Homo sapiens: one gene and its partners. The protein of the gene in region 2 interacts with the protein of the main gene of each other region in a pairwise test. Each region holds a gene or a part of one and is shown on either strand. Other genes may lie near its edges. The genes, in order: ODAD1, KLC1 and ATCAY.

Region 1 (7,108 bases), on a different chromosome or scaffold from region 2:
AGCTGTGGCCTGGGTCGGCCTTAGGGTCTCTGTGATTTCTCTCTTTCTCTCTCTCTGTTAAAACAAACGTGGCAAAATTCACCATTTTAAAGCGTAGAATGTAGCAGCATTTAGTACATTCACGGGGCCGTGCAACCGCACCACTTCTGTCTAGATCTGAAATATTTCCATCACTCCAAAAGGAAAACTACCTGCCACCGGGAAGTACAGGAATCCTCGCTTTTTAGTCTTACTTGGGAGAAAGAATTCTGCCAAGAGACTGATTTAGCCAACAAAGAGAATTTACTGAAGGCAAATAGAGAACAGAGAGTTTACCTAGAGAGAGACAGTACACTCTGAAGGATGAGGAGAGCAGGCTGCTGAAAGAACGTGAGCCAGCAGCACACCGAGAGTTTTGTGTTGTGTTTCTAATATGATGTCGCACTCTTTTGAAGTTCTTGCTTCTGTCTTTTTTTTTTTTTTGAGACAGTTTCGCTCTTGCCACCCAGGCTGGAGTGCAGTGGTGCGATCTCAGCTCACTGCAATCTTCACCTCCCAGGTTCAAGCGATTCTCTTGCCTCAGCCTCCCAAGTAGTTGGGATTACAGGCATGCACCACCAGGTCTGGCTAATTTTTGTATTTTTAGTAGAGATGGAGTTTCACCATGTTGGCCAGGCTGGTTTCAAACTCCTGACTGCAGGTGATCCTCCTGCCTCCCAAAGTGCTGGGATTACAGCCTGAGCCACCGTGCCCAGCCAGTTCTCTGCTTTTTGTGACCACAGGATAACTGCAACCTGATTCAGCCCCATTCCTGTGACCCCAGGCTGGCCCTGCCCATCTGGGACACCAGCTGACTCCACCTCACCCCCCACAACCTCTGGCTGACCCCGCCCATCCCCAGGACCCCAGGCCGACCCCAGTCCAGCCTCCAGTCATCCTGACCCCGGCTGACCCCCGCAGGGAGGAGGCGAAGGCCAAGATGGGCTTGCTGCGGGAGCGCGCGGAGAAAGAGGAGGCCCAGAGCGAGATGGAGGCGCAGGTCCTGCAGCGGCAGATCTTGCACCTGGAGCAGCTGCACCACTTCCTCAAGCTCAAGAACAACGACCGGCAGCCGGATCCCGATGTCCTGGAGAAGCGTGAAAAGCAGGGTGAGGCTGGGGCTGCTGCCTTTGCATCTCAAGGGCCTGGCCGCCCCTGGGGCACCTGCAGCACACCTTCGTGCCCCAGGTGGGACCACACTTCGCTCCCCCTCACCCAGGAGGTCTCTGTGTTGGAGGCCACCCAGGAGGCCGACCTGCTGTTCTCTCTTCCCCTAGCCGGGGAGGTGGCCGAGGGCGTCTGGAAGACCTCCCAGGAGAGGCTGGTGCTTTGCTACGAGGACGCCCTGAATAAACTGTCCCAGCTGATGGGGGAGAGTGACCCTGACCTGTTGGTGCAGAAGTATCTGGAGAGTGAGTGGGGCCCTGGGTGGAGGGAGGAGGCCCGGGACCCCGGCACCCCCTGAGTCCAGTGCAGGCTGGCCTCAGCTCTGGCCCTGGGGAACTCCTCCATCTGTGCTGGAGGAACAAGGCGTCATGCCTGGGACCCGCCGCCCGCGTCCACTGGCGTCTTACCGTGGCCCTGTCTCTGCCCCTCCCCACCCCCTCCTAACTCCTGGGCCTGGGGTCACTCTCCACATCCTTCCCTCAACCCTGTCCCTCTCTGTTTCTCTCCTTACCCATATCTACCGTTCTCCCCGCCTGCATCTCCCCATCTCCCTTGCTATTGCCGAGTCTCTGGCTTTCCCTCTCTGCCTTGCTGTGTATTTCTGTGTCCCACCTGCCGTATCTTCCCACACCTCTTTGTCTCTGTGACTCCTCTCTGTTCGTCTCTCTGCCTTGGTTTCTGTGTGGCCTTCCTCATCTTCACTTTCTTTGGCCTTCTGTATGCCTCTCTGTCTCTGTTCTCTCTGTCTCTGTTTCTCTGTCTCCCTCTCTCTGGGCCCCGCCTTGCCCAACTCTCCCAGTCGAGGAGCGCAACTTTGCTGAGTTCAACTTCATCAACGAGCAGAACTTGGAGCTGGAGCATGTGCAGGAAGAGATCAAGGAGGTGAGTGAGGCCTGCCCTCTCCATCTCCTCCTCTCCTCCCGGCCTCCCCGCCCCCTTCCCTCCCTCAGCCTGCCTCCTGCTTCTTCCTAGCTCCACACCCCCAACTCCCGAGGCTGCCATCTGGCCCAGCATTCAGCCCTGTCCCCACAGATGCAGGAGGCTTTGGTGAGCGCACGTGCCAGCAAGGATGACCAGCATTTGCTGCAGGAGCAGCAGCAGAAGGTGTTGCAGCAGCGCATGGACAAGGTGCACTCGGAGGCTGAGCGCCTTGAGGCCCGCTTCCAGGATGTGCGGGGACAGCTGGAGAAGCTCAAGGCTGGTGAGCACCCATGGGCGCCCCCTCCCGAGCCTGGCTTCTCCACTTGGAAGGACACCATCAGCCCGCGGGGCTTGGAGGCATTGCATGGACAACCTGGTTCACTTGCTTATCAGTTGCCCCATATCTGTCCATCTTTCCAACCAGGGTCTATCCCTCCAACTGTCCCATGTCCATCTATCCATCCATCATCTGTCCCTCCAACTGTCCTACACCCATCCATCCATCCATCTATCAATGCATCCATCCATCCATCTAGGGTTGATCCCTCCAACTGTCCCATATCCATCCATCCATCCATCCATCCATCCATCCATCCATCCATCCATTCAACGTCTGTCTCTCCAATTATCCTATATCCATCCATCCATTCAGAGTCTATCCCTTCAACTGTCCTATATCCATCATCCATTCAGGATCTATTCCTTCATCTGTCCTATATCTATCTCTCCATCCAGGGTCTATCCCTCCATTCTGTCCCATATCCATCTATCTATCCAGGGTCTGTTCCTTCATCTGTTCTATATCTATCTACCCATCCAGGACCTACCCCTCCATCTGTCCTATATCCATCCATCCATTCATCCATCCATCCATCCATTCATCCACCCATCCATCCATCCATCCAGGGTCTATTCCTCCAACTGTCCTGTATCCATCATTCATCCAGGATCTATTCCTTCATCTGTCCTATATCTATCTCTCCATCCAGGTTCTATACCTCCATCTGTCCCATATCCATCTATCTATCCAGGGTCTATTCCTTCATCTGTCCCATATCTATCCATCCAGGATCTACCCCTTCATCTGTCCTATATCCATCTGTCCGTATATCCATCCATCCATCCATCCATCCATCCATCCATCCATCCATCCATCCAGGATCTATTCCTCCAACTGTCCCATGTCCATCCATCCATGCAGGGTCTATCCCTCCAACTGTCCCATGTCCATCCATCCATCCAGGGTCTATCCCTCCATCTGTCCCATGTCCATCAATCCATCCATTGTCTATCTGTCCATCTGCCTCCAACAGCCCCACATCCATCTGTTCATCCATCTATCTGCAATGACATTTGACTTTTGTCTTCCTAGTCTTAGTCTTAGTTACCAAATTTCTTCTTAGTCTTAGTTACCAAATTTCTTCTTAGTCTTAGTTACCAAAAATGTTATTATTTGTAAAGAAAATGATGATAAAATATAATAGCAATGTTTATTATGTGTCATTCACTGTGCAAGGCACTTATGCATTATTCCACTTGTTTCACAAAACACTAAAAAACAGATGCTGTCCCTCCAACTGTCCCATATCCATCATCCACCCATCCATCCATCTACCCAGTATTCATCCATGGATCATCCATGTACATCTCTGTCTATAAATGCCTAGCAGTGGGACCGATGGGTCTTAGGGTAGGTATATGTTGATATTTATTAGAAAATGCCGAACAGTTTTCCACACTGGTCGCAAGATTTTATGCTCTCACCTATGCGAGCATATGGGAGTCCCCGATGATCCACACCTTTTCCACCACTTCCTAGTGTCAGCCATTTTTTATCTTGTTTTGTTTTTGAGATGCAGTCTTGCTCTGTCACCAGGCTGGAGTGCAATGGCATGATCTCGGCTCACTGCAACCTCCGCTTCCTGGGTTCAAGCGATTCTCCTGCCTCAGCCTCTCCAGTAGCTGGGACTACAGGTGTGCGCCACCACGCCCAGCTAATTTTTGTATTTTTAGTAGAGTCGGGGTTTCATCACGTTGGCTAGGATGGTCTCGATCTCTTGACCTCGTGATCTGCCCGCCTCGGCCTCCCAAAGTGCTGGGATTACAGGCGTGAGCCCCCGTGCCTGGCCGTCAGCCATTTTAATATTAGCCATCTAACGTGTGTGCCGTACTCTCTCTATTAATTTAATTGGCATTTCCCTGGTGACTAATAATATTGAGCATCGTATTGGCCATTCAGATGTTTTTGTAAAGTTCCTGTTCAATCTTGTGCACTTGTTTTTTTAAAAATTGGGTTTGTCTTGCTATAACTGAGTTGAAGGAGTTCTTTGTATATTCTAGATACTAGACTTTTGGTAAATATTTTCTCTTATACTGTAGCTTGCCTTTTCATTTTTTTTGGTGATGAACTGAAGTTTCTTAGTTTTGAGGATATCTAATTTATGAAATTTTCTTTTTGTAGTTAATGACTTTGTGGCCTGCCTAAGAAATTTTTGCCTGTCCTGAGGTTACAAAGGCATTATGCTGTGTTTTCTCCTAGAAGTTTCATTGTTTGAACTCCCACATTGAAGTCTGTGACTTATGACAAATTGATTTGCATTATGGTATGAGGTAGGGGTCTAGAGTTTCCTTTTTAAAAATTTTTTTAGATTTTTTTCATTTATTTATTTTTTGAGAGGAATTTCGCTCTTTTGCCCAGGCTGGAGTGCAGTGGCACAATCTCGGCTCACTGCAACCTCTGCCACCCAGGTTCAAGCAGTTCTGCCTCAGCCTCCTGAGTTGCTGGGATTACAGGTGCCCGCCACCACGCCCAACTAATTTTGGTATTTTTAGTAGAGACGGGGTTTCGCCATGTTGGCAGGCTGGTCTCAAACTCCTGACCTCAGGTGATCTGCCCGCCTCAGTATCCCAAAGTGCTGGGATTACATATGCATGAGCCACTGTGCCCGGCCCTTTTTTTTTTTAGAGATAGGATTTTACTATGTTGTCCAGGCTAGTCTTGAACTCCTGGACTCAAGTGATCCTCCTGTCTTGGACTCCCAAAGTGCTGGGATTATAGGCATGAGCCACCACTCCTGGCTGAGTTTCTTTTTTTTTTTTTTAATCCCTTCTGTGGGTATGTTGCATCCACCTGTGCATCCTTTTTTTCTATTATTATTATTATTTTTTAAAATTTGAGAAAGTCTCGCTCTGTTCCCCAGGTTGGAGTGCAGTGGCACGATCTCGGCTCACTGCAATCTCCCCCTCCTGGTTCAAGCGATTCTCCTGCCTCAGCCTCCCAGTAGCTGGGATTACAGGCACACACCACCACACCCAGCTAATTTTTGTATTTTTAGTGGAGGGGGGTTTTGCCATGTTGGTCAGGCTGGTCTCAAACTCCTGACTTGAGGTGATCCACCCGCCTTGGCTTCCCAAAGTGCTGGGATTACAGGTGTGAGCCACTGCGCCGGGCCTCATCTTTCTTATTTTTCAGGAAGTAGCCATGCAGAGCACTCAGGAGTCAGGCTGTCCTGTTTCTTTTCTCTTTTTTAAAACATTTATTGTTAGCTTTTATTTGTTTTTTTGAGATGGAATCTCACGCTGTCAGCCAGGCTGGAGAGCAGTGGTGTGATCTGGGCTTACTGCAACGTCCATCTCCCGGGTTCAAGCAATTCTCCTGCCTCAGCCTCTCCAGTAACTGGGATTACAGGCCTGCACTACCATGCCCGGCTAGTTTTTTTGTATTTTTAGTAGAGACAGGGTTTCACCATGGTGGCCAGGCTGGTCTCAAACTCCTGACCTCAAATGATCTGCCTGCCTTGGCTTCCCAAAGTGCTGGATTACAGGCGTGAGCCACTGCACCCAGCCTGTCCTGGGTTTGAATCTCAGCTCCACCAATTGTGAACCTTGGTGTGTGGCTTCCTCCTTCCGCTCTGGGAATGGGGATGGCAGTGCCTACTTTGCAGGGTTGTCATGAGAATTAGAAGGGATGACGGATGGAGAGAAAGGTGGGGGGTGGTGGGGAGCGAGCTGGAGAGCCTCCTCGGGGCATACCGTAGGAGCTCAGATATGGGCAGGTCCTCCTTCCTGCTGTCGTGATGGCTGATCCGAGCCCTGTGCTAGGTGATGTGGGCACAGTGGGGAGAGGCCCTGGAGGGGACTGACCTGCGCACTGGGCACTCATCACTCAGGGGCTAGGACAGAGGACGCCCAGGCACTGGGGGCGAGAGAAGGCCCTAACTCAGTCTGGGGTGCAAGACCATAATTTGTGGGGCCCAGTGCAGAATGAGGGGCCCCTTGTTAAAAAATTGCTGAGATTTTCAAGATAGGAAGAGCAGCAGCGTGTCAAGCCAAGTGCAGGCCCCTCACCACTGCCTGGATCTCACACTCATGAGGCTGGCTCTGCTGGGGTCACTGGGAAGGCTTCCTGGAGGCAGTGACACTTGAGGCTGACTTTGAAGGACAAGTCAGGGAGAGAGGGATGCACAGCAGTGCCGTCCCCCTGCCTGGCTGGCTGAGCTCGGGTGACTCCCTTTTGGTCTCTGAGCCTTGACCGCAGTCTCTGTAGAATGGGGCAGTGAGGACCTGAGTGGGGAGAGGGCTGGCACCCAGCTGGCGGTGCCAGATCCCTGACAACCGGCCCTCCATGACGCAGATATCCAGCTCCTCTTCACCAAGGCCCATTGCGACAGCAGCATGATCGATGACCTCCTTGGGGTCAAGACCAGCATGGGAGACCGGGACATGGGCCTCTTCCTGAGCCTCATTGAGAAGCGGCTGGTGGAGCTCCTGACAGTGCAGGCCTTCCTACATGCCCAGGTGGGAGACGGCAGGGAGCCGGGACAGGAGGCCGGTCTCGGGGGTGGCCCAGCTGACCGCAGGCTCCCACACTCTCCAGAGCTTCACCTCCCTGGCCGACGCTGCCCTCCTAGTGCTGGGCCAGAGCCTGGAGGACCTTCCGAAGAAGATGGCCCCACTTCAGCCCCCTGACACTCTGTGAGGCGCAGGGCAGGAGGGACGCAGA
Region 2 (7,108 bases):
TTTGAAATCTGTAAACCAAAGGCACAGAAGGAAGGAAAGACATTAAAAATGTGAAAAGATGAATTTGGGTGATTCTCCTGTTTCCATTTCTGCATGAATTGGGTAGGTCTCTGCAATGAGGACATGAAGATGGATTTGGGTGATGCTCCTGTCTCCATTTCTGCGTGAACTGTATAGGTCTCTGCAATGAGGACATGTTATGGGCTCTGGGCACTGTAATCCCAGTCTAACTGCTTCTCAGCTACGGGGCCTCACACAAGTCACTTAGTCTGTGGTGTCTTTTTTTTTTTTTGAGACAGAGTCTCACTCTGTTGCCCAGGCTGGAGTGCAGTGGCACGATCTCGGCTCACTGCAAGATCCGCCTCCCGGGTTCACGCCATTCTCCTGCCTTAGCCTCCCGAGTAGCTGGGACTACAGGCGGCCGCCATCACACCCGGCTAAGTTTTTGTATTTTTAGTAGAGACGGGGTTTCACTGTGTTAGCCAGGATGGTCTCGATCGCCTGACCTCGTGATCCACCCACCTCGGCCTCCCAAAGTGCTGGAATTACAGGCGTGAGCCACCACGCCCGGCCTGTGGTATCCTTGCTTTTAAAATGGGGTAATGTTTGACCCGCTGCACAAGACTGCTGTGAAAGTGAAGTGAAATCACACATTTAAACTATTTAGCTTAGTGATGTACAAAGTTAAGTGCTTAATAAACAGTAACTAATACTATTAGTATATTACTATTAGTCAAGTCATTATACAATTAAATTCACTTGAAACGGGAGTATATTTCTTACCATCTACAGAACCAAACTCCCTTTCATGTGCACGAGTGAGAATCTCTTTGTACAGTGTTTCTGCTTGCTTGAACTTTCCTTGTTTCAAATAGCAGGATGCCTTAAAATAAAATAAAATAAAATATTTCATATCTTTCAGATGTAAATAAAGCATACATTTTAATCTCCAGTTAAATGAGAAAGTGTTTGGACTTGGGACGAAAGCACTCCTGGCCCCCTCCCTAGTGCTGTGCAGTCAACACACCAGGTTATTTTTCGTCTTAGCCACGTTGGGGTCATCAGGTCCCAGTTTTGTCTGGTAGATCTCGAGGGCTCTTTGATAATAATATTCTACTTCTTCATACTTGCCCTGGTTCTGGCACAGTAAGGCCAAGTTATTTAACTGCTTGGCAACATCGGGGTGATCCTTCCCCAAAACCTGAAAATAAAAAACAGCATATTAGAGACACTTGTTCTGCTTCCATCCAATCCATTCTCCACCCTACTGTCACATCAGGATCTTCCTCAACATAAGCACGACTGTGCTACACTTTCAGATTTAAATCCTTAACTGGCTCGCTACACCACGTAGTAATAAAATAACCAGAATTTCTCAAATTCTTATTCATGAGGGGAGGGAGGGAACTGTGCTCATCTTCTTTAGCTGTGTTAATTACTGTAGTAATCCTTCATGGTAGTTATATTTTTGTACATTGGTTGTACTATGTACAAATGTACACATTAGGCACATTTTGAAGATAAGGAAATGGGCTTTGTAAAGGCTATGTGAGTTTTACTGCCAGCTTCTGAAGAGCCCACAGCTGTCCCAGTTGCCCAGGATGCTCTTCTCCTAGCCCTCCCTACTAGCTACGACTTATCCTTCAGGGTTCTCCTCAGTTCCCCTCAAAGGAGACTTCCCTATACCACCCCACCTCACCTAGTGAACTCACAGGCACATCACCTGGTTGTTCTTTATAAGAATCACTTCTCTAAACTACCTTGAATATTTTTTATTACAATGTAAGCCCCAAGAGTATAAATTCTTTGTCTCTCTTCTTCACCAATGTAATCTCCGCATCGAAAAAGGGGTCTGGCACAGAGATAGATGAATGAACACTAACCTCCTCCCTCAGTACCTTGAACAAGTGATGAGTTCTCTCCGCTTTGTGCCTTTACACATGTGGTCCTCAGGGAGGTAAGCTGCCTTTCTACTCCCTTCTGCATTCCCTACCTCCCCCTGCCTAGGACACTTTTAACTCAATTATTCAAGATGCAGTTCCAACACCGACCTTCCCTGAGAAACCATCCCCAACACCCCCTGGCTCTGGCCCGCAGAAGCCCACACTTCATATCCTCCCAGAGCTCTCTATTCTAGATGCTGATGTGCCCTCTGCGGTCCTCAGTCTGTCCAGTGGACTGTGTCCTAGTGGGAGGAACTACATGTCTGATCTGTAAATCACCAACTCTAAGCAGGGGGCTCTAAATGAATGAAAGGGTAAATATATGAATGAATTTGGCAGGTCATCTTATATGGTTCCTAATCCTTAATTTGATACTTTTGTGCTCTCCCTGACTTTAACTCCAGCCCACCCCAAATTCAACCATTCTATTTCAGAAATATCATGCAGATTGACAGCATGATAAAATATTACCTGTATAATTTGATAAGGAGCCCCTTTTTATTTTCTCTCCCCCAATTCCTTGCCATGTGGCTCAAAATTAACTGATAAGAATCACTGATAAATAATCACAAAAAATACCAGGTTAAAATACCATTTGTGCGGCTGGGTGCAGTGGCTCATGCCTGTAATCCTAGCACTGTGGGAGGCTAAGGCAGATGGATCACCTAAGGTCAGGAGTTCTTGGCCAGCCTGGCCAACATGGTGAAACCCCATCTCTACTAAAAAATACAAAAATTAGCCGGGTGTTGTGGCACATGCCTGTAATCCCAGCTACCCAGGAGGCTGAGGCAAGAGAATTCCTGGAATCCAGGAGGCGAAGGCTGCAGTGAGCCGAGATCGTGCCACTGCACTCCAGCCTGGGCGACACAGCAAGACTCCGTTTCAGAAAAAAAAAAACACAATTTGTGGTCACTCATCGGATAGACCCAATACCCGAATCTTCATAACATCTAAAGAGATTGTCATACACAGCACTGCTGAAATGAACAAGTTGTTATATTTTTTAATACCTAATTACCATGAACTGTAGCAGCTGGTATTAAATATATATGACATTGACTTAATCTATAGCTCTGAGTTAATCTTTAGTTATAATAATAATTATTTCATTTTTCAGCTTCATAAAGCATATTTGGTGAATTTATCTTTAATCATGTTTTTCTTATTGACAAGCACATGTTCCACTGTCAAATGCAATGCTCCCAGGCTTTCCATCTCTAGTCCTCAGACATGTCTTCTTCAATCAGAGTCACTTCTAGGCCATATCAGGCTTGGACAGCATCAGACTCAGGACTGCACCTTTCTAAATGCACACGCCTCATAACTGGACCTTCTTTTCTTTTTTTTTTCTTTAGAGACGAGGTCTCACTATGTTACCCAGGCTGGTCTTAAACTTCCTAGGCTCAAGTGATCCTCCCACCTTGGCCTCCCAAAGTGCTGGGATTACAAGCATGAGCCACTGCACCCAGCCTGTAATTGAGTCTTAAACACTGATTTGTATGGGCCAATCTGGCTTTGTTTTGTGGGCTATTCTCTAATTAAATGAGTTGTTTTCAGCTAATAGTCAGTTAAAAACACATCACAGTGGTTATTTCTCAAAACCTAAAACCGAAAAATTTTTAAAAACACAAAAAACAGCGCCGGGCACAGTGGCTCAGCCTGTAATCCCAGCACTTTGGGAGGCCAAGGCGGGCGGATCAGGAGGTCAAGAGATTGAGAACATCCTGGCCAACATGGTGAAACCCCATCTCTACTACAAATACAAAAATTAGGTGGACGTGGTGGTGTGTCCCTGTAGTCCCAGCTACTTGGAAGGCCGAGGCAGAAGAATCACCTGAACCATGGAGGTGGGGGTTGCAGTGAGCCGAGATCACGCCACCGCACTCCAGCCCGGTGACAGAACGAGACTCCATCTCAAAAAAAAAAAAAAAACCACACACACACAAAACAAAAATCTCAAAGAAAACGACTGCCCCCTTCTTTTGTACCTTTTCTCGGATTTCCAGAGCTCTTTTACACAACGGCTCTGCTTCTTTGTACTTCCCTCTTTTACCATAAAGGACTGCAAGGTTATTCAAAGTCGCCGCCACCTGTCAACACAGAGAGAACCACTAAGAATGGTAAAAGATAACCAAATAAGAGTACATTTATACACCACATATTCATTTATATTCAATCTATACAGTAAAGCATTCTTAGTCGGATAGAACAATATGACTTCAGTTAAAATGAAAAGCGCAATTCACTAGAGTATAGATTATACAAAGTAACACTGCAGAATACTAAAATTAAACAAATCAACAACGTATTCCTGACTTTTTAAAAATTTCCCTGGAAGCCACAAAGCCAACCAAAACAGATTCATATGCAAATCTGACCAGATTTTAATGAAGACAATATAATTTTCAGAAAAAAATTTCTAGAAGGACATGCAATTTGATTTACAATCAAACAATACAGTTGGTGATCCATTTGAGGTGGGGTCATAAACAAATTAAGTGTGCTCTGGCCTGTCACTAGCACTGAGTAAGTGAAGACCTCCTACCTGCACCATCTAGGGAAAAGGCAGCACTTAAACTTTCCCTGTTGAGTTTAATGGTAAAATGAGTTGGATAAAAGAAATATATGGGGAAAATAAAATATTAAAAGAATGAAAGAACTGGATATACAAACCGCAGGATGATCTTTGCCCAAAGTTTTCTCACGAATAGCCAAGGCATCATTCAGTAGGTTAGCTGCATCTTTGTATTTATTCTGATCCCTAAATGGAAAAACACACATTAAGTGTTTCAGATGTAGATCACTACAGCTTTTCTTTTCTTTTCTTTTCTTTTTTTTTAGACAGAGTCTGACTCTGTTGCACAGGTTGGAGTGCAGTGGTGCCATCTTGGCTCACTGCAACCTCCGCCTCACGGGTTCAAGCAATTCTCTGCCTCAGCCTCCTGAGTAGCTGGGATTACAGGCATCTGTCACCACGCCCGGCTAATTTTTGTATTTTTAGTAGAGACGGGATTTCACCATGTTGGCCAGGGTGGTCTCAAACTCCTGACCTCATGATCCACCCGCCTAGGCCTCCCAAAGTGCTGGGGTTACAGGCATGAGCCATCGTGCCCGGCCTCACTACAGCTTTTTTAAATGTAATTTTCAACTACAGAAATAAAAGTTAAGCTTAAACTATTTAAGAAAAACCACAGGGCCGGGTGCAGTGGCTCATGCCTGTAATCTCAGCACTTTGGGAGGCTGAGGCGGGCAGATCACGAGGTCAGGAGATCGAGACCATCCTGGCTAACATGGTGAAACCCCATCGCTACTAAAAATACAAAAAAATTAGCCGGGTGTGGTAGCAGGCGGCTTTAGTCCCAGCTACTCGGGAGGCTGAGGCAGGAGAATGGCGTGAACCTGGGAGGTGGAGCTTGCAGTGAGCAGAGATCGTGCCACTGCACTCCAGCCTAGGCGACAGAGTGAGACTGTCTCAAAAAATAAATAAATAAAAAGATGGGTGTGGTGGCTCACGCCTGTAATCCCAACACTTTGGGAGGCTGAGGCGGGCGGATCACGAGGTCAGAAGATCGAGACCATCCTTGCTAACACAGTGAAACCCTGTCTCTACTAAAAATACAAAAAAAAATAGCCGGGCATGGCAGCATGCGCCTGTTGTCCCAGCTGCTGGGGACGCTAAGGCAGGAGAATGATGTGAACCCGGGAGGCGGAGCTTGCAGTGAGCATAGATCGCGCCACTGCACTAAAGCCTGGGTGACAGAGCAAGACTCCGTCTCAAAAGAAAAAAAAAAGAAAAAAGAAAAACCACAAGCTTATGGATGGGGAAAAAACACTGGAAGGAAATCCACCAATAAATGGACTGGCAAGGTGAACTCTGGAATCAGACCCAACTAGCTTCTGAACTTAACCTTCCCATCTAGGCCACTGGGAAGATAATGTCCCCACACTACAGTGTTGTCCTGCCTATGCCAGCTGGCCAGCACAGAATAAGTGCAACAGTCTAGAACAATGGACCAAGCTTGCATTTGGTTTCAGACAGAATTAATTCTAGTGTCTGAGCTTGGGCTCTACCAGTTAATGGCTACATGGCTTTGGGTGCATTACGTGACCTCACGCAGTCCCAGCCTTCCCATCTACAAAGCAAGTATATGATCTATTGCACAGTCTTGCTGTAAGAAGATGATATGCTACATGTATACTGAAAAAATATTTTAAAAAACAACAAACAAAAGTAAATATATTGTTGTGTCTGAACTTGGTACCCAGTCTCCCTCCATTTTGTTGAGTATGGAGGAACGAAGAATCTTTCTTGATTGGAGTAAAACAGAAACACCCCAGAACCAGAAACTCTCAGTTTAAGCGTGCTACTCACTACTGATGTGACTGAGAACAAGTACTTGCTTTTGAGACTTAGCACACATCTTTCTCAATTGAGTAGTAGTAACTGCCTGGCAAGGCTTTCCCCTGAAAAACGTGAGAAAGGTTAATAAGGCTTCTACAACCTCTGAAGCACACTAATTCTGGCCACGTATTAATATATTGTTGTTTCTTCTTTCATCCTATTACATCCTATTGTAAGCTGCCTCAAACTTTTTGTGAAAGTCAGCAAGTACAAAATAGAGTTCCAAAAAGTAGTGGCCAGGTGCGGTGGCTCACACCTGCAATCCTAGCACTTTGGGAGGCTGAGGCGGGCAGACTGCCTGAGCTCAGGAGTTCAAGACAAGCCTGGGCAACACAGTGAAACCCCATCTCTACTAAAATACAAAAAATTAGCCAGGCCTGGCGACATGCACCTGTAGTCCCAGCTACTCGGGAGGCTGAGGCAGGAGAATTGTAGCAAATGCAATTTAAAAATAAGCTACCAAGGCTGGGCACGGTGGCTCACGCCTGTAATCCCAGCACTCTGGGAGGCTGAGGCGGGTAGATCACCCGAGGTCAGGAGTTCAAGATCAACCAACATAGCAAGACCCTGTCTCTACTAAAAATACAAAAATTAGCTGGGTGTGGTGGCAGGCACCTGTAATCCCAGCTACTCGGGAGCCTGAGGCAGAAGAATCGCTTGAACCCAGGAGGCAGAGGTTGCAGTGAGCTGAGATTGTGCCATTGCACTCCAGCCTGGCCAACAAGAGTGAAACTCCGTGTAAAAAAAATAAAATAAAATAAGC
Region 3 (7,108 bases), on a different chromosome or scaffold from region 2:
TCTTTTTTTCCATACATATAGGAAAAAAATATGTATACACACACACACACACACACACACGTCCTATTGGATTTGTTTCCCTGGAGCACTCTGATTAAAATAGGAGACTATCCTGGATCCTGTATTATCCAGGTGGCCTGACATCGTTACAGGATCCTCATGAGTGGAGACAGGAGGGTGAGAGTCAGAGAAAGCCTAGAAGAAGATGGGCTGCTTTCACAATTTGTCTGCACAAGAGATATGTCTCTTCTCCTTTATTTATTTATTTATTTATTTTTGAGATAGAGTTTCACTCTGTCACCCAGGCTGGAGTGCAATGGTACGATCTTGGCTCACTGTAACCTCCGCCTCCTGGGCTCAAGTGATTCTCCTGCCTCAGACTCCCAAGCAGCTGGGATTACAGGCGCCACCACTGTGCCCGGCTAATTTTTATATTTTTAGTAGAGATGGGGTTTCGCCATGTTGGCCAGGCTGGTCTCGAACTCCTGACCTCAGGTGATCTGCCCGCCTCGGCCTCCAAAGTGCTGGGATTACAGGCGTGAGCCACCGCACCCGGCCCAAAGTCAGGCTTTGAACTCATGTCTGCCCAATGTCCAAGCATCCATCCCCTTAATCTCTGAGGCTTGCCCACAGGACAGAGGTTATAACATTCACCCCTGTCAGGATGATGTCGGTTTAATTCTGCCCACCCCCGCCAATGGCATGGATACAGAAGGGAGCCCACCCTCTCTTCCCATTCCTGCATGATGAAACAGCTTCCACCAGGTAGGAAAATGGGGGGAAGGTAAAAGAGAGAAAGCAAAGATGTTTTCCATTTTTCTCATTTCCCTGCAGCTCCTCCCAACACGCTAAATTTCAACGGAGCGCATCGTAAGAGGAAGACGCTGGTGGCCCCAGAGATCAACATTTCTCTGGATCAGAGTGAGGGGTCCCTGCTGTCCGATGACTTCTTGGATACCCCTGATGACCTGGATATTAACGTGGATGACATCGAGACCCCCGATGAGACCGACTCGCTGGAGTTCCTGGGGAATGGCAACGAACTGGAGTGGGAAGGTAAAGTTCAGGGTCTCTCTGGGGCCTGCTGGAGCCCACCCCCCCCACCCCACCTTTCCGTCTCTGGATTCCCATAGGCTCAGAGAGTCACAAGTGGGGCAGGGGCTCTAAGCAGTCTAGCCTTAAACCCAGGAGATCAAGACTGCAGTGAGACGTGATCATGCCACTGCACTCCAGCCTGGACAACAGAGTGAGACCCTGTCTCAAAAATAAAATTTTTAAAAAAGAGAGAGGTGGCTGGGCGCAGTGGCTCATGCCTGTAATCCTAGCACTTTGGGAGGCCGAGGCGGGCAGATCACGAGGTCAGGAGATCGAGACCATCCTGGCTGACACAGTGAAACCCCGTCTCTACTAAAATACAAAAAATTAGCCAGGCATGGTGGCGGGCACCTGAAGTCCCAGCTACTCAGGAGGCTGAGGCAGGAGAACGGTGTGAACCCAGGAGGCCGAGCTTGCGGTGAGCCAAGATTGTGCCACTGCACTCCAGCCTGGGCGACAGAGCGAGACTCCGTCTCAAAAAAAAAAAAAAAGAGAGAGAGAGGTTGGTGAATGGGTACCAACATACAGTTAGACAGAAGGAATAAGTTCTATTGTTCGATAGCAGAATAGGAGGGGTGCCAGGAGGAGGGTCCATCCGCTCCTGCGACTGTTTTTTTTTTTTTTTTGAGACAGAGTCTCACTCTGTTGCCCAGGCTGGAGTGCAGTGGTGTGATCTCAGCTCACTGCATCCTCCACCTCCCGGGTTCAAGCGATTCTTTTGCCTCAGCCTCCCGAGTAGCTGGGATTACAGGCATGCACTACCACTTCCGGCTGATGTTTATATTTTTAGTAGAGATGGGGTTTTCCCATGTTGCCCAGGCTGGTCTCAAACTCCTGACTTCAAGTGATACACCCACCTCGGCCTCCCAAAGTGCTGGGATCACAGGTGTGAGCCACGGCGCCCAGCCTGCCCCTGCAATTTGATGCATATTTTTCTTGTGGGCTTGTGAATTTTTCTGCAGAACGTGGCTTTCATCAGAATCTCAAAGGCGACCAAGATCCCAACAAACTGCCCTCGATGTATGCAACAAATACTTTTTGACCATTTACTCCAGGGCAAGTCCTGATTCAGGCGTGGGGTATATGGCAGGGCTATGATAAGAAGAGATGGTCCTGGTCCCTACCTGCACACACAGATCATCAGAAAGACAGACCACGAAAGGCCAGGCGCAGTGACTCACGCCTGTAATCCCAGCACTTTGGGAGGCTGAGGTGGGCAGATCACCTGAGGTCAGGAGTTTGAGACCAGCCTGGCCAACATGGTGAAGCTCCATCTCTACTAAAAATACAGAAATTAGCCGGGCATGGTGGCGTGCGTAGTCCCAGCTACTCGGGAGGCTGAGGCAGGAGAATCGCTTGAACTCTGGAGGCAGAGGCTGCAGTGAGCAGAGATCGCACCACTCCACTCCAGCCTGGGCGATGGAACAAGACTCTCTCAAAAAAAAAAAAGAAAGAAAAAAAAAAATTAAGGACAATGTAGTGGCTCATTCCTGTAATCCCAGAGCTTCGGGAGGCCAGGGTAGGAGGATCGCTTAAGGCCAGGAGTTTGAGACCAGCCTGGGCAACATATTGAAACCCCATCTCTACAAAAATATAAAAATTAGCTGGGTGTGGTGGTGCACAACTGTAGTCCCAGGTATCTGGGAGGCTGAGGCAGGAGGACTGCTCTCTGTGTGCCAGGCTCCTGGGAGAGTAAAAACCAAGCATGCATGCCCCGAGTATCCTCGTGGTTTGATGAAGCAGATGCATTCACCAGCTCTGAGAAGCTCCAGGACACAGGTCCTTAACCAACAGAGTGCCCTGGGAGGCCAGCAAAGGGAATGTCCAGAAAGGCTTCCTGGAGGAGGCGGCATTTGAGCCAGGCCTTGAAAGGGGAGTAGGAGAGGAAAATGGGTCAGCAGGGCAGCCAGGTGGGGAGAAGCGAAGGACTTGTGGGTCCCGGCAGCGAGGGAGGTGGGAGAGGGGAAGGAAGGCTGAGCAGGAGGGCAGGAGATATCCGGACTCTGGCGTCCATGCGACTCTCCGCCACCTGCTTCTAGACGACACCCCCGTGGCCACCGCCAAGAACATGCCCGGGGACAGCGCGGATCTATTTGGGGACGGCACGACGGAGGACGGCAGCGCCGCCAACGGGCGCCTGTGGCGGACAGTGATCATCGGGGAGCAAGAGCACCGTATAGACCTGCACATGATCCGGCCTTACATGAAAGTGGTCACCCACGGAGGTGAGACCCGCCCCCCGGTGCCCCCTTGGGGCTCCAGCCCGGCCCACTGGGCAACAGGGGGTTCGTCAGTGCCCCTCTCTGATGCACGGGGATGTTAAGCCGTCAACTCGCTTCGGGTGGACGGACTGTGGGCAAGGCGTGCATGGTCAGGGAGGCGCACTGGGGGCCCCTGATGGTCGCTGTCACTCCTCAGCGAAGGCAGAGACTGGCTAAGGGGTCGCCGGCTGCTGTGGCTCGGAGCCATGCCCTCCCGAGCGTGTGGGCACCGGGACGTGGTGGGTGGTGCGCGGGAGGCAGCTCAGGGCTGGGAGAGGACTCTGACGTTGCCGATCGGCTGCCTCTCCTCAGGGTACTACGGCGAAGGCCTCAACGCCATCATCGTCTTCGCAGCCTGCTTCCTTCCAGACAGCAGCCTCCCCGACTACCACTACATCATGGAGAACCTCTTCCTGTGAGTCCCCGCCCGCGGCGAGCAGCCTCGGGCCAGCTCTGATGCCTCCCTGGCCACAGGGGCACCAGGCTGCAAGGATTGCATTGTGGCCCTAGGAAGCCTGCCTGGCACCAGGGAAGGGCGTGGTGGCCACAGACCTTGATCTGAGTCCCTGCTGGCCCTGAGGCTCACAGTGGCCTTCCCTCTGGGCCACCCTGTTCTCCTCCCCGTCCTCCTCCTCCTCCTCTTCCTCCTCCTTCCCCTCCTCCTCACTGTCCTCCTCCTCCTCCCCTTCTTCCTCCCCCTTCCCCTTTCTTCTCCTCCTTCTCCTCCCCTTCTTCCTCCCCCCTCCTCCTCCCTTTTCTCCTCCTCCTCCCCTTCCCTCTCCTCCTCCCCCTCTTCCCCTTCCCTCTCCTCCTCCCCCCTCTTCCTTCTCCTCCTCTTCCTCCCCTTTCTCCACCTCATCCTCTTTCTCTTCCTCCCCTTTCTCCCCCCTTCCTCCTCCTTCTCCTCCTTCCCTCATCTTCCTCTCCTTCCCTCTCCTCCCCCTCCCCATCCTCCTCCTCCCCATCCTCTTCCCCTTCCTCCTCCTCTTCCCGCTCTGAGATGGCACCACTGCACTCCAGCCTGGGTGACAGAGTGAGAACCTGTCTCAAAAAAAAAAAAAAAAAAAAAAAGCAAGGCCTAGAGACCAGCCTGGCCAACATAGTGAAATCCTGCCTCTACTAAAACTACAATTTAGCTGGGCTCGGTGGCAGGCGCCTGTAATCCCAGCTACTAGGGAGGCTGTGGCAGGAGAATGGCGTGAACCTGGGAGGCGGAGCTTGCAGTGAGCCGAGATCGCACCACTGCACTCTAGCCTGGGCAACAGAGCGAGATTCCGTCTCAAAAAAAAAAAACGACTCAATAAAAGAGTAACTGCCCTATGAGGATGCCCGCTGACACTCATGTGGAGTGTGCTGGGATCATCCACGTCCTCTCCCACCCTGCAGTCCGCCAGGACAGCAGACAACACCTGGACCAGTGGGGCTGACCCAGCCAGCGGCAGGAGTGGAGGCAGGCAGGGTCGGCACCGCAGGTGTCCTGACCCTGGACCCCTCCATGTTGGGTCCCTGCCTTCTGTGCCCCGTGAGCAGGTACGTCATCAGCAGCTTAGAGCTCCTGGTGGCTGAGGACTACATGATCGTGTACCTGAACGGTGCCACGCCCCGGCGGAGGATGCCTGGAATCGGCTGGCTGAAGAAGTGCTACCAGATGATCGACCGGAGGTGAGGTGGGGATGCCTCAGGAAGCACAGTGGGGGCATGAAAATCACACAGGGGGCTGGACATGGTGGCTCACACCTGGAATCCCAGCACTTCGGGAGGCTGAGGTGGGAAGGTCCCTTGAGCCCAGGAGTTTGAGACCAGCCTGGGCAACGCAGCAAGACGCTGTCTCTACAGAAAAACTTTTAGGCCGGGCAAGGGGGCTCACACCTCTAATCCCAGCACTTTGGGAGGCCAAGGTGGGTGGATCACCTGAGGTCAGGAGTTCAAGACCAGCCCGGCCAACATATAGTGAAACCCCATCTCTACTAAAAAAATTCAAAAATTAGCTGGGCGTGGTGGCGCATGCCTGTAGTCCCAGCTACTTGGGAAGCTGAGGCAGGAGAATCACTTGAACCCAGGAGGTGGAGGTTGCAGTGAGCCGAGATCATGCCACTGCACTTCAGCCTGGGCAACAGAGCGAGACTCTGTCCCCATGAAACACTCACTCCCTATTCCTTCTCCCCAGGCTCCGGCACCCCCCATCCTACTTTCTGTCTCTGTAAATCTGATGACTCTAGGGACCTCCTAGGACTGGAATCACACAGGATTTGTCCTTTTGTGTCTGGCTTTCCTCACTGAGTGTGATGTCCTCAGGGTGCATCCACATTGTAGCCTGTGTCAGAGCCTCCTTCCTTTTCATGGCTGCATAATATTCCACTGTATGGACATACCACATTTGGTTTGTCCATTCCATTCATCTCTTGATGGACATGGGTTGCTTCCACCCCTGAGTTATTGTAAATAGCCTCAGAGTGACATTAAAATTGAGCCAGCCAATCCATCCTTGCACCCAGGTTAGTGGAGGGAGGCTCCAAGGACAGGCTGGTCCCTCCTAGGGCATTAGGTGGTGAAAATACAATCTTGGCTGCTCAAATAACTACCAACCTGGTTCACCTGCTCTGCACCATGGGGTCTCTACCTACCTCATCCACCTGAGGGTCTTAGGGACTCAAAGGGTGTGTCTTTATCCCACCATAGGACCCCCATGTCTTGGATGGGGGCAGGGATTTGACAGGTACCTGGAGACCACACGTGGAATGAGCAGAGTGACGAATGCTTGCTTGTGGCTCTCCCGTCCCACCCAGCTCCTCCCTCCCCAGGGCTCGCCCCAGGAGCCCATCTTGCTTCCTTTGCGGCCCCACACAGGTTGCGGAAAAACCTGAAGTCCTTGATCATCGTCCACCCCTCGTGGTTCATTCGGACTGTGCTGGCCATCTCTCGCCCTTTCATCAGGTGAGACGGGGAGGCTGCAACCCAAGTCCAGTGGCCTCAGTGTGCGTGTGTGCGTGTGTGTATGCATGCATTTGTGTGTGCATGTGTGCACGTGTGTGCGTGTGTGCATCTGTGTGTGTGTGCATCCATGTGTGTGTTTGATGTGCATGTTCCAGCTTCTCTATGATGAATACATATTATTGCTTTAAACAGTTTTAAATTGCACACAGCCAGGCACAGTGGCTGACACCTGTAATCCCAGCTACTCAGAAGGCTGAGGTGGGAGGATCGTTTGAGGCCAGCCTGAGCAACATAGCAAAACCCCCATCTCTACAAAAAATACAAAAATTAGCAGGACGTGGTGGTGCACACCTGTAGTTTCAGCTACTTGGGAGGCTCACGTGGGAGGATGGCTTGAGCCCAGGAGATCAAGGCTGCAATGAGCCGTGATCGAGCCACTGTACTCCAGCCTGGATGACAGAGTGAGACCCTGTCTCAAAAGAAAATCAGTCATGCATGGCATCACATGCCTGTAGTCCCAGCTACTCAGGAGGCTGAGGCAGGAGGATCACTTGAGCCCAGGAGGTAGAGGCTGCAGTGAGCTATGATCACTCCACTGCACTCCAGCCTGGGAGACAGAGCAAAACAACCCTGTCTCTAAAAATAAAATATATATATATGTATGTATAAATAAATAAATAATATGACTAATAAATTTAAAATTTAAAACTACATATATTCTATAATGTATATCATATATAGTTACTATATTAAACATATAGTAAAACAGATCAAGTGAAATAAAATTAGGCATGTTAAATGCCCTATTCAATCCAATA

The links.
Region 1: the proteins of KLC1 (region 2) and ODAD1 interact in binary tests that used the Homo sapiens proteins (3 or more experiments, as listed by UniProt).
Region 3: the proteins of KLC1 (region 2) and ATCAY interact in binary tests that used the Homo sapiens proteins (3 or more experiments, as listed by UniProt).

What each region holds. Positions count from the first base shown.
Region 1 is NC_000019.10:48,297,972-48,305,079, reverse strand, and holds part of ODAD1 (outer dynein arm-docking complex subunit 1), read left to right. Parts: intron 1-939; coding exon 940-1,127; intron 1,128-1,295; coding exon 1,296-1,430; intron 1,431-1,984; coding exon 1,985-2,067; intron 2,068-2,217; coding exon 2,218-2,386; intron 2,387-6,739; coding exon 6,740-6,903; intron 6,904-6,982; coding exon 6,983-7,080; intron 7,081-7,108. UniProt on the Homo sapiens protein: Component of the outer dynein arm-docking complex (ODA-DC) that mediates outer dynein arms (ODA) binding onto the doublet microtubule. Involved in mediating assembly of both ODAs and their axonemal docking complex onto ciliary microtubules.
Region 2 is NC_000014.9:103,667,107-103,674,214, reverse strand, and holds part of KLC1 (kinesin light chain 1), read right to left. Parts: intron 4,705-7,108; coding exon 4,617-4,704; intron 4,034-4,616; coding exon 3,932-4,033; intron 1,202-3,931; coding exon 1,028-1,201; intron 884-1,027; coding exon 784-883; intron 1-783. UniProt on the Homo sapiens protein: Kinesin is a microtubule-associated force-producing protein that may play a role in organelle transport. The light chain may function in coupling of cargo to the heavy chain or in the modulation of its ATPase activity.
Region 3 is NC_000019.10:3,904,600-3,911,707, forward strand, and holds part of ATCAY (caytaxin), read left to right. Parts: intron 1-834; coding exon 835-1,056; intron 1,057-3,134; coding exon 3,135-3,320; intron 3,321-3,668; coding exon 3,669-3,771; intron 3,772-4,886; coding exon 4,887-5,018; intron 5,019-6,203; coding exon 6,204-6,290; intron 6,291-7,108.